Regions from separate parts of the Homo sapiens genome. Here region 2 is linked to region 1. A link means that fine-mapping ties the variant in region 1 to the expression of a gene that starts in the linked region. Tissue or cell type: neutrophils. Region 1 holds a variant in brackets; the other region holds the start of a gene. All regions are shown on one strand. Distances are between the middles of the regions.

The links. PIP is the estimated chance that this variant, and not a neighbour inherited with it, causes the effect.
Region 2: it holds the start of COA8, and the variant in region 1 is fine-mapped to the expression of COA8 in neutrophils (BLUEPRINT, PIP 0.95).

Annotation. Positions count from the first base shown.
Region 1 is chr14:103,240,681-103,245,824 of GRCh38, reverse strand. It overlaps the pseudogene RPL21P13. Among named protein-coding and RNA genes, the nearest start is that of LINC00605, 54 kb to the right of the region's middle. RefSeq lists an enhancer at 1,067-2,266. The variant A/T (reference allele first, on the strand shown) is at 2,730.
Region 2 is chr14:103,560,242-103,565,385 of GRCh38, reverse strand. It overlaps COA8 (cytochrome c oxidase assembly factor 8), which reads right to left and starts at 2,426. Exons shown (of 5, transcript NM_001370595.2): 1 at 2,262-2,426. The coding sequence starts at 2,384. It overlaps BAG5 (BAG cochaperone 5), which reads left to right and starts at 2,729. Exons shown (of 2, transcript NM_001015048.3): 1 at 2,729-2,770; 2 at 4,194-5,144. The coding sequence starts at 4,222. RefSeq lists a silencer at 2,472-3,121 and enhancers at 3,462-3,511, 3,611-4,124.

The sequences.
Region 1 (5,144 bases):
GGCATCATTCTCAGCAAACTAACACAGGAACAGAAAACCAAACACCGCATGTTCTCACTCATAAGTGGGAGCTGAACAATAAGAACACAAGGACACAGGGAGGGGAAAAACACACACCGTGGCCCTGTTAGGGGGTAAAGGGCAAGGGGAGGGAGAGCACTAGGACAAATACCTAATACATGTGGGGCTTAAAACCTAGATGCTGGGTTGATAGGTGCAGCAAACCACCACGGCACATGTATACTATGCGACAAACCTGCACGTTCTGCATGTGTATCCCAGAACTTAACGTAAAATTAAAAAAAATAAATAAAAAGGCAGTCCTGCATGCATGGGTACCTTCCACCTGGAGATCCCCAGCTGAAGCTGATCTGCAGCCAGTTACCTTATTCTTCAGACCAGGACGAGAAGTGGGAAATTAATTAGAAATCACTCAAAAAGTTAAATGGGCTGGGTGCGGTGGCTCACACCTGTAATCCCAGCACTTTGGGAGGCCAAGGCTGGTGGATCCCTTGAGGTCAGGTGTTCGAGACCAGCCTGGCCAAAATGGCGAAACACCATCTCTACTAAAAATAAAAAAAAATAAAAAATAAAAAAAATTTGCCAAGTATGGTGGTACACATCTGTAATCCCAGCAACTTGGGAGGCTGAGGCAGGAGTATCACTAGAGCCCAGGAGGCAGAGGTTGCAGTGAGCTGAGATCACGCCAGTGCACTCCAGCCTGAGCAACAGAGTGATGCTCTGTCTCAAAAAAAAAAAAAAAAAAAAAAGGCAAAATGGCTGCAAGATGGTAGAAAAACAGACCCCTCACGTGATTTACATGATTGATTACCTTTAGGAATAGGAATGCTTTCCAGATTGGGATTTTATTTGCATCATATTTTTTATTCTTCACTTGATTAGGCTTTGTATTTCTAGATGTCTAAAGTCAAGAATAAAAACGAAAATCATGATAGCTAGAACACTTAGGAATGATCCGCGACACCACAGCTTCTCTCCAAGCAGGCGGCCTGGGATCCCGCTGCTCTGTCCCGTTGTGCTGCCAATATCTTCTGCCTGGAGACCTCACCGAGTTCATGAGCCAGAGCACCTCTCCTCTTACCCCCCCCCCCCCCATGGGAATGAGCCTTCCCAGTGATGCTGGGCAAATTTACACTTAAAATGTTGATCAGCTAGGTGCAGGGGCTCACGCCTATAATCCCAGCATGTTGGGAGGCCAAGGAGGGTGGATCACTTGAGGCCAGGAGTTAGTTCAAGGCCAGCCTAGGCAACATGTTGAAACCCTATCTCTACCAAAAATACAAAAATTAGTCAGGCATGGTGGCATATGCCTGTAGTCCTAGCTGCTCCGGAGGCTGAGACATTAGAATTGCTTGCACCCTGGAAACAGGTTGCAGTGAGCAAAGATCACACCACTGCACTCAAGCCTGGGCAACAGAGTGAGACTCTGTCTCAATAAATAAATAAAATGTTAGATGCAGTTAGGTTTCCTCTTCAAACAGCTTATCCAGTTTCCTCATTCTCTATCCTACAATTCCAAATACCCCCTTGCCTGTGCTGCACCGCAGCTTGTCTGAATATGCCTAGGCATGCCTGAACTTGCTACAACCCCAGTCCACATTTCTTTCCTTATTAGGGAATAGGTTACCCTCCTAGTCCCTCCGTAAATGACCCCCCTTCTCTCCCTTCTCACCTCCCTTACGTGCCTACCTTATCTAAGAAAGTTTAAATGTTTAGCCAACTGGGACTAGTTTAGACTGTGTGGTCCAACCCTAGCCAATAGGGGAAAGACACAGAAGCAGAAGCTGTGTTAGACATAATAAAAACCCCTGCTTTCCTTTGTTCTGTGTGCTTTTGCCATTACTTCACATGTGAGATGCACATACCCTTCTGCCGAAGTAAATTTGCCTTGCTGAGAGATCCTTAGTCTCAGTGCTGGTTCTTCTTTGAGGCACCGAGCATTTGTTTCCAAAAAATAAATAAAATAAAATAAAATATTGATCATCAATACTTTCAGAGAGCAAGATCTTGATCCAAAGGAGGAAATAAGAAAGAGAAGTGGCTCAGAGCAGCCTGAGGAATGTGAGACCTGCAAACTTATCAGGCCCAGAGAACAATGATGCCAGCAGCTGTGCCTAGGGTTCACTGTTCAAAGGCTTTTTCTTTCCTTCCCTGTAGTTTCCAGGCTAGCTGACTGTCTAGACTTCCTAAAAGTTACCACAAATTGTACAATGTGATCCTTATCCATGTCAATGAAAAGAGTCAAATTCTGTGAAATATGTTACAGGGTTTATTCTAAGCCAAATATGAGTGACCATGGCCCATAGCATAGCCCTCAGGAGGTCCTGAGAACATGTGCACAAGGTGGTCGGGGCACATATAGCTTGGTTTTATATATTTTTAGGGAGACATTAGACATCAATCAAATATATTTAAGAGGGACTGGCACAGTGGCTCATGCCTGTAATCCCAGCACTTTGGGAGGCTGAGGCGGGTGGATCACAAGGTCAGGAGTTCAAGATCAGCCTGACCAACATAGTGAAACCATCTCTACTAAAAATACAAAAAATTAGCTGGGCGTGGTGGTGGGTGCCTGTAATTTCAGCTACTCGGGAGGCTGAGGCAGGAGAATTGCTTGAACCCAGGAGGCGGAGGTTACAGTGAGCCGAGATCATGCCATTGCACTCCAGCCTGGGTGACATTGTGAGACCCCATCTCAAAAAAAAAAA[A/T]AAAATATATATATATATATATGAAATATATGGGTTTGGAGGTTCCCTCTCTTGGCTTTGGAGCCCCCCATCCCTCTGTTTCTGTACAGGGGAGCTTCTTCCTTCTCCCATCCTTCTTGCCCCTTCTTGCCTATTAAACTCTCCACTCCTTAAAACGAAAAAAAAAAAAAAGAAAGAAAGAAATACAACGGTTTGGTTCAGAAAACTGGGACAACTCTCAAAGCGGGAGCTTCCAGGCTGTAGGTAAGTTTAAACATTTTCTGGTTTACAATTGGTTGAGTTTATCTGAAGACCTGGGATTAACGGAAAGGAAATGTTCAGGTTAAGATGAAGGATTGTGGAGACCAAGTTTTACTGTGCAGAGGAAGTTCTCAGATAGCAGACTTCAGAGAGAGCAGGTTGTAAAATGTTTCTTATCAGACCTAAAAGTGTACCTGGCTCTAGTTGATTATCTCCTGGATCTGAAAAGAAAGGAAGGAAAACAAAGGGGAAAGGGGATTCCAATAGAATCTGGATTTTTCCCACAAGAGACTTTGCAGGACAATTTCAAAGTATGGCAAGGAAATGTATTTTGGGGTAAAATATTTTGATTTTTTTTCGTTGTTATGCCAGAGTCAGGTTGGAAAGTAAGTCACGATATACAGAGTTAAATAAAACCCATCTGATGAGAATTTCTGCTTTGTAGCGCATGACTCCCCAGACCCCTTAGAAAGGAATTTGGGCAAGATAAAAAATCAGAGCTTAGTCCTCGCCCATTATCTTCATGTTTCTGAAATGTGTGATACAAACAACAACGTTCAGCCAATCAATAACTGAAGCTTTTTGTTGTAAATTATTTTATTTCTTCCTTGATGATTTAGAGGGACTATCTTCAAACCAGTACAAATATTTCATACATAATACCTGGCCATTTTCTAACTCATTGAGTAATTTGTTGCACAGTAAGCTACCTCACGTCTTTCAGCAGGAAATGCATTACGTTTGAATGGTGAAGACATTACATAATGAATTAGGACACAACTAAAATTTACTTTAAATAGTTCTTTGGGGGAGGGGGCACCACACTTCTCAATGAAGAGAAACATTTTTATAGTCCAGAGGTCTTTTATTTTATTAACACCTATTATGCCATGAATCCATAGGGAATAGGTTCCAGCAGTTCAGGCTCCTTCCCGTTGGTTCTCACAAAGTGTGCTTCTCTGGGTGGAGCAGCCTGGAGCTTAGTTGAATCCAGGTACCTTTCTCTGTGGCTTCTGTCTCTTTCTGATCATTTTCCTTCACGCGTTTCAGGAAGCTATCTCGGCTCATAGAGGGCTTAATGTGCTCAATACGCTCATTAATTCTCTTGGCAGGAATCTTGCCCTTAACTTGTTTGTCTACAGCAATGCCAACAGCATGCTGGGGAACACTGTAGACTCTTCCAGCTTTGCCATGGTGACACTTGCGGGGCTTCCTTTTTGAACAGTTCCCATTCTCTTGATGTCTACAGTGTCACCTTTCTTATAGATTCACATATACGTGGCCAGAGGAACAACTCCATGTTTTCCAAAACGCCTGGAGAACATGTACCGGGTGCCTCTCCTCTTTCCCTTTGCATTCATCATTTTGGCGAATTCCTGGAAGATGGCGGTTCTGGCCAAAAGGCACTGATGCCATTTTAAAGAACCAATGTACATTCCTGGTAAACGACCAAACTGCTCCTTCAATTTTCCTTTAAAAATCCATTTGCATCTGCTGCTTGTTGGAGCTTATCGCCAGGGTAACTTGAGTCTATGTCTCCTGGGCTTCAGTCCTCAAACGTGGCCCAAATAAACTCTCTATTTATGTTAATTTTGCCTCAGTTTCTTCCTTTATGTTGATGCAATAAAGTTCAAGAATGGGTAAAACCGATTCATGGAGTTAGAAGACGTGAAACACAGCCGTTACCTTGGTGGGGGAAGTTGGGAAGGGGTGGGAAGCGGTGTCACAGGTGTTGATTCCGTGGGTGGGCTTGCTTTGTAAAAATGTTTCCAGCTGTAGGTTGATGATTCGTATACGTTTCTGCAGGCATGTTGTGCTTTCATTTAATAATCTTAACATCTTTAGGCAATGGCTCTGCTGAGACTTTGCCCTTGGATGCTGTGAGGGGCCCGAGGCTCAGGCCACCCCATCTGGCTCAAGACACTGATTTCCTGTAGCACAGATGAGAGCAAATGAGAATCCGACAGCAAGAATTGCTAAGTGCTTGGGGCTGACAGCAAGGAAATCTATAGCAAAGAGACTGCCCACCCCTGGGGCCTCTCCTCTTTTTAAGCACCACTGCCCACCCCACCCCTGCCATCAGCCCTGCCTTCCTCCTGGGGAATGGCGGGACAGCTCTACCCATGACAGTGGTCTCTGCCCTGATCCCTGATCGAAATGACTGACGGCAAACTC
Region 2 (5,144 bases), 320 kb before region 1:
TAATTTTTTTTTCTTTACCAAAAGCAGTTATATTTCTGAAAAGCTGAGTTTTAAAGATGGATTTGGAAGGAAGAATGGTGCCTGACTCTTAAGTTCTATAATATTTTTCAATTAAAAGCTGGTGCTGGCTGGGCATGGTGGCTCACACTTATAATCTCAGCACTTTGGGAGGCCAAGGCGGGTGGATCACCTGAAGTCAGGAGTTCGAGACCTGCCTGGCCAGCATAGTGAAACCCCATCTCTACTAAAAAAAGAAAAAAAAATTAACCAGGCGTGGCAGCATGCGCCTGTGATCCCAGCTATACTCAGGAGGCTGCGGCAGGAGAATTGCTTGAACCCAGTAGGCAAAGGTTGCAGTGAGCCGAGACTGCGCCATTGCACTCCAGCCTGGGCAACAGAGCAAAAACTCCATCTCGAAAAAAGAAAAAACGAACAAGGCAGAGAGGTCTCTCATCTTGAGAACAGACCCATGGTAAGATTTATTTTACTTTAACAAGAAGTCTAAGGCTGAGAGTGGTGGCTCACACTTGTAATCCTAGCACTTTGGGAGGCCCAGGCAGGCGCATCACTTGAGGTCAGGAGTTTGAAACCAGCCTGGCCAACAGGTGAAACCCTGTCTCTACTAAAAATACAAAAAAATTAGCCGGGCATGGTGGTGGGCCCCTGTAGTCCCAGCTACTCGGAAGGCTGAGGCACGAGAATCGCTTGAGCCCGGGAGGCAGAGGTTGCAGTGAGCTGAGATCACGCCACTGTACTCCCACCTGGGCGACAGAGGGAGACTCCAACTCAAAAAAAAAAAAAAAAAAAAAAAAAAGAAGTGTATATGACAATAGAGAAATCCTTATTTGGGTGCTGTTGTTTCTTTCCAGCACAAGTTCACAAAATAAGCTAGGGAAAATCCCCCCCGCCCGGGAAATGTCTTGGTTGATTTCCCGTTTGCTCTCTTAGAGCATTTTCAGACACCTGCTCTATCTTTCTGCCCAAAGATAGAGATGCTGGGTGGGTTTCTATGTTCTAGGGATAGAAGGCAAGGACTTGGTCACTGTAACACAGAACTGAGCTAGCCACTTGGGTGTCTGGTTGGCAAGTTGCCCTGGTAACTCCTTGTTTAAATTGTAAACTAGATAGACCTTCAAAGCTACAATTATGAAAGTGTACTAACAGCCACAGCCCAACAGAAATGAAAATGTACAAGCAAGTACATTTGCAATTTTTAATTAGCTTTTTTTTTTTTGAGATGAAGTCTCCCTCTGTCGCCAGGCTGGAGTGCAGTGGCGCGATCTCGACTCACAGCAACCTCCGTCTCCCGGGTTCAAGCGATTTTCCTGCCTCATCCTCCCGAGTAGCTGGGTCTACAGGCGCGCGCCACTATGCCCAGCTAATTTCTGTATTTTTAGCAGAGACGTTTCACCATGTTGGGCAGGATGGTCTCACCTCTTGATTTCGTGATCCGCTTGCCTCGGCCTCCCAAAGTGCTGGGATTACAAGCGTGAGCCACGGAGCCCGTCCAATTTTTAATTAACACTTTTTTAATACTTCTTTAATTATTGTTTAAACCAAGTTTTCCAGCCTCCTTCATTAGCCTGTTTGGTATTTGCATGCTTTGCTTGAATATTTTATCTCCAGCCCATTCCACACCGTTAGTCAACATTTTCATCTGACAGACGGAATCAAGGCCTAGGCCTCCCTTAAACAAAACATCCCTCCCAAAAGTACCACTTATAAAAATTGCTTGCCACAGACATTCTTGCTACAGACATTCTTTGCGGATCTTTGGCCAGTAACATGCATATACCCACACATAGTTTGCAAATAACAACTATTCAACGTGAAGTGCTACAAAAGTACGATGATAAAGTGCTCGCCGCTTGAAGAAAAGCACTAATAATTGTAACAAAGCCAAAACACACACACACACAACGAAAAAAAACGCACGGTAAGCCAAGAGCTCTTTAAAAATAAAAAATAATCATTCTCGGGAACAAATAAGGTAGGTACAAACTTGCCAGGTGACTCTGTTACGCTTAAAGGTTCTGGCTGTCAACAGTCCCCGGCGTGGTGGCGGCGGCACCCTCAGTCCCATCCGACTGAGGGCGTTGATGCGGGAGCCTCGGGGCTGCGGGACTGTTCGGGATAGGACGCGAGAGCACCTGGACAAAGGCCTGAGGCGGCTGTGCAGAACAGGGAGTGGCCCCGAGGCCCGGGTTTGTCTTCCCTTCCGGTCACCCCTCCCGGCCCAATGTCCCCAGGCCCCTGCTTACCCCGCTGGGCGCCGTATCCCTGCGCTCGGCGCCGCGCTCCGGAGCGAGTTGACAGCCGCGGCAGGCGAAGGCGCGGCAGAGAGGGGGGAGAAAGGTCTTCTTCCCCGCCCGCAAGACCACCATGGCCCCACGCCCCCTGGCTCCCGCGGCGCACGGCAGCATTGCGACGGCGCGAGGGGCCGCTTTACGGCAGGGTCGCGAAGCCCGAGGAAGCGCGGCGGCGCGGCCGACCGTGCGCTTTCCCAGCGGTGCGACGGGGTGAGGGGGCGGCGGGCGGCGCGGGCTGACCCGGGCGGCCGCTCCTTGGTCGCGGTCACTCCAGGCTGCCTCGCTGCGCCGCTGGCGGTGGGCGTGGCGCTGCCGGCGGCTAGGCGCGGACGCCGGAGGAGGTGTCCCCGGGTTTAGGGGTGTTCGGCCAGGGGCGGGGCTGCCGGGCCCGGGCGACTGCCGGAGCTGCGGAAGTCGTGGAAGCGTCGGCGACGCATCGCGCGATGGCGCGGGCGGGACAGGTGAGCGAAGCGCGGCTTGTAGCCTTTTCCCTCTCTCGGGGGGACGAGTGGGGCACCACCTCCGCGCGGGGCTCCCCGCTGGGCCACCCCTTCGCCAGCGCCCAGCCCCGTGCGGCCTGTCGGATCAGGCAGGGCAGAGTCGGTCTCGGCGCTGTCCCCGCCCCTGGGGTCGGAAGCGACCGGGGCTGGCCGGGCCTGGTCTCTGGTGTCTCCGGCCGGGCCTCGGTTCCCCTCCTCCCCCGGCTTCCCCCGGCCGGGCCGAGCTCCCCTCGCGCGCCCATTGTGAGGTCACGTCCTGCAGGCGCGCCCTGGCACCCGGGCCAAGACGCCCGGAGCGGCTGCTGCAGCCAGTAGCGGCCCCTTCACCGGCTGCCCCGCTCAGACCTAGTCGGGAGGGGTGCGAGGCATGCAGCTGGGGGCCCAGCTCCGGTGCCGCACCCCGTAAAGGGCTGATCTTCCACCTCGCCACCTCAGCCACGGGACGCCAAGACCGCATCCAATTCAGACTTCTTTTGGGTAAAGGGCCAAGAGGGAAGGGCGAGGCGGGGAGGAAGCAGCTCGGGCCGCCTTCCCTCCGTGGCCTCCAGGACATCCGCCGGGGATAGATTATGCGTTTCCATTGGTTACCCACCTTGAGCGAGCCGTTTGATAGAAACCAAGAGCTTGAAACGTGCATTAGGCCATTGTGGACTCCCAGTGGGAGGCGAGTGAATGAATTATTCATAGTTACCACGTTTTCGCGGGTTGTTTTTTTTTGAGAGAGTGGAGCATGTTGGGGGCTGAGGAGGTGTTGGGCCTCGAAAGCCCAAGGTGGTGCCCTTCAGCGCTGTCCCGGTCGCTCTTCTTTACCTGTGGGGTTTTAATCTCTTCAGGGAGACTTCTGTGAGGGAAGATGTGTGAGGAGCTAAAAGGGTGGGGAGGGGAAGTGCACAAAGGGATGGAGAGAAACGAAGAAGCGGGGACCTTGGGGATGTCTGAGAGCCACTGGTTTTTGTTCTGGTTCTTTCTTTTGCTTAGAGTTTCTGGAAACTAGGCATAGCTGTGTGGCGGGGCGGGGTACTGTTAGTGTTCGGAAGGTTACAAGAGCTACTGTTTCACCTTTCATAAAGGTGCCCTGCTGGTTCCAAATAGTTTGTGTCGCGTACGGTGACTCACACCTTAATCCCAGCACTTTGGGAGGCGGAGGCGGGCGGATCGTCTGAGACCAGCCTGGGCAATATAGTGAGACCTGTCTCTACTAAAAATAACATTAGCTGGGCGTAGTGGTGTACGACTGTAGACCCAGCTACTGGGGAGGCTGAGGTGGGATGACTGCTCAGAAGTATACCTTTTTAAAATGAGAATTTTAGAATGACTTAATATACCATTAGTGTTCTGCAGAAGCCTTGTGCTGTAGTAAGTTATCATTCTTGTCGTCTTTTAGTGCTTGTGAAACTGAACACAACAAAAGTATGGATATGGGAAACCAACATCCTTCTATTAGTAGGCTTCAGGAAATCCAAAAGGAAGTAAAAAGTGTAGAACAGCAAGTTATCGGCTTCAGTGGTCTGTCAGATGACAAGAATTACAAGAAACTGGAGAGGATTCTAACAAAACAGCTTTTTGAAATAGACTCTGTAGATACTGAAGGAAAAGGAGATATTCAGCAAGCTAGGAAGCGGGCAGCACAGGAGACAGAACGTCTTCTCAAAGAGTTGGAGCAGAATGCAAACCACCCACACCGGATTGAAATACAGAACATTTTTGAGGAAGCCCAGTCCCTCGTGAGAGAGAAAATTGTGCCATTTTATAATGGAGGCAACTGCGTAACTGATGAGTTTGAAGAAGGCATCCAAGATATCATTCTGAGGCTGACACATGTTAAAACTGGAGGAAAAATCTCCTTGCGGAAAGCAAGGTATCACACTTTAACCAAAATCTGTGCGGTGCAAGAGATAATCGAAGACTGCATGAAAAAGCAGCCTTCCCTGCCGCTTTCCGAGGATGCACATCCTTCCGTTGCCAAAATCAACTTCGTGATGTGTGAGGTGAACAAGGCCCGAGGGGTCCTGATTGCACTTCTGATGGGTGTGAACAACAATGAGACCTGCAGGCACTTATCCTGTGTGCTCTCGGGGCTGATCGCTGACCTGGATGCTCTAGATGTGTGCGGCCGGACAGAAATCAGAAATTATCGGAGGGAGGTAGTAGAAGATATCAACAAATTATTGAAATATCTGGATTTGGAAGAGGAAGCAGACACAACTAAAGCATTTGACCTGAGACAGAATCATTCCATTTTAAAAATAGAAAAGGTCCTCAAGAGAATGAGAGAAATAAAAAATGAACTTCTCCAAGCACAAAACCCTTCTGAATTGTACCTGAGCTCCAAAAC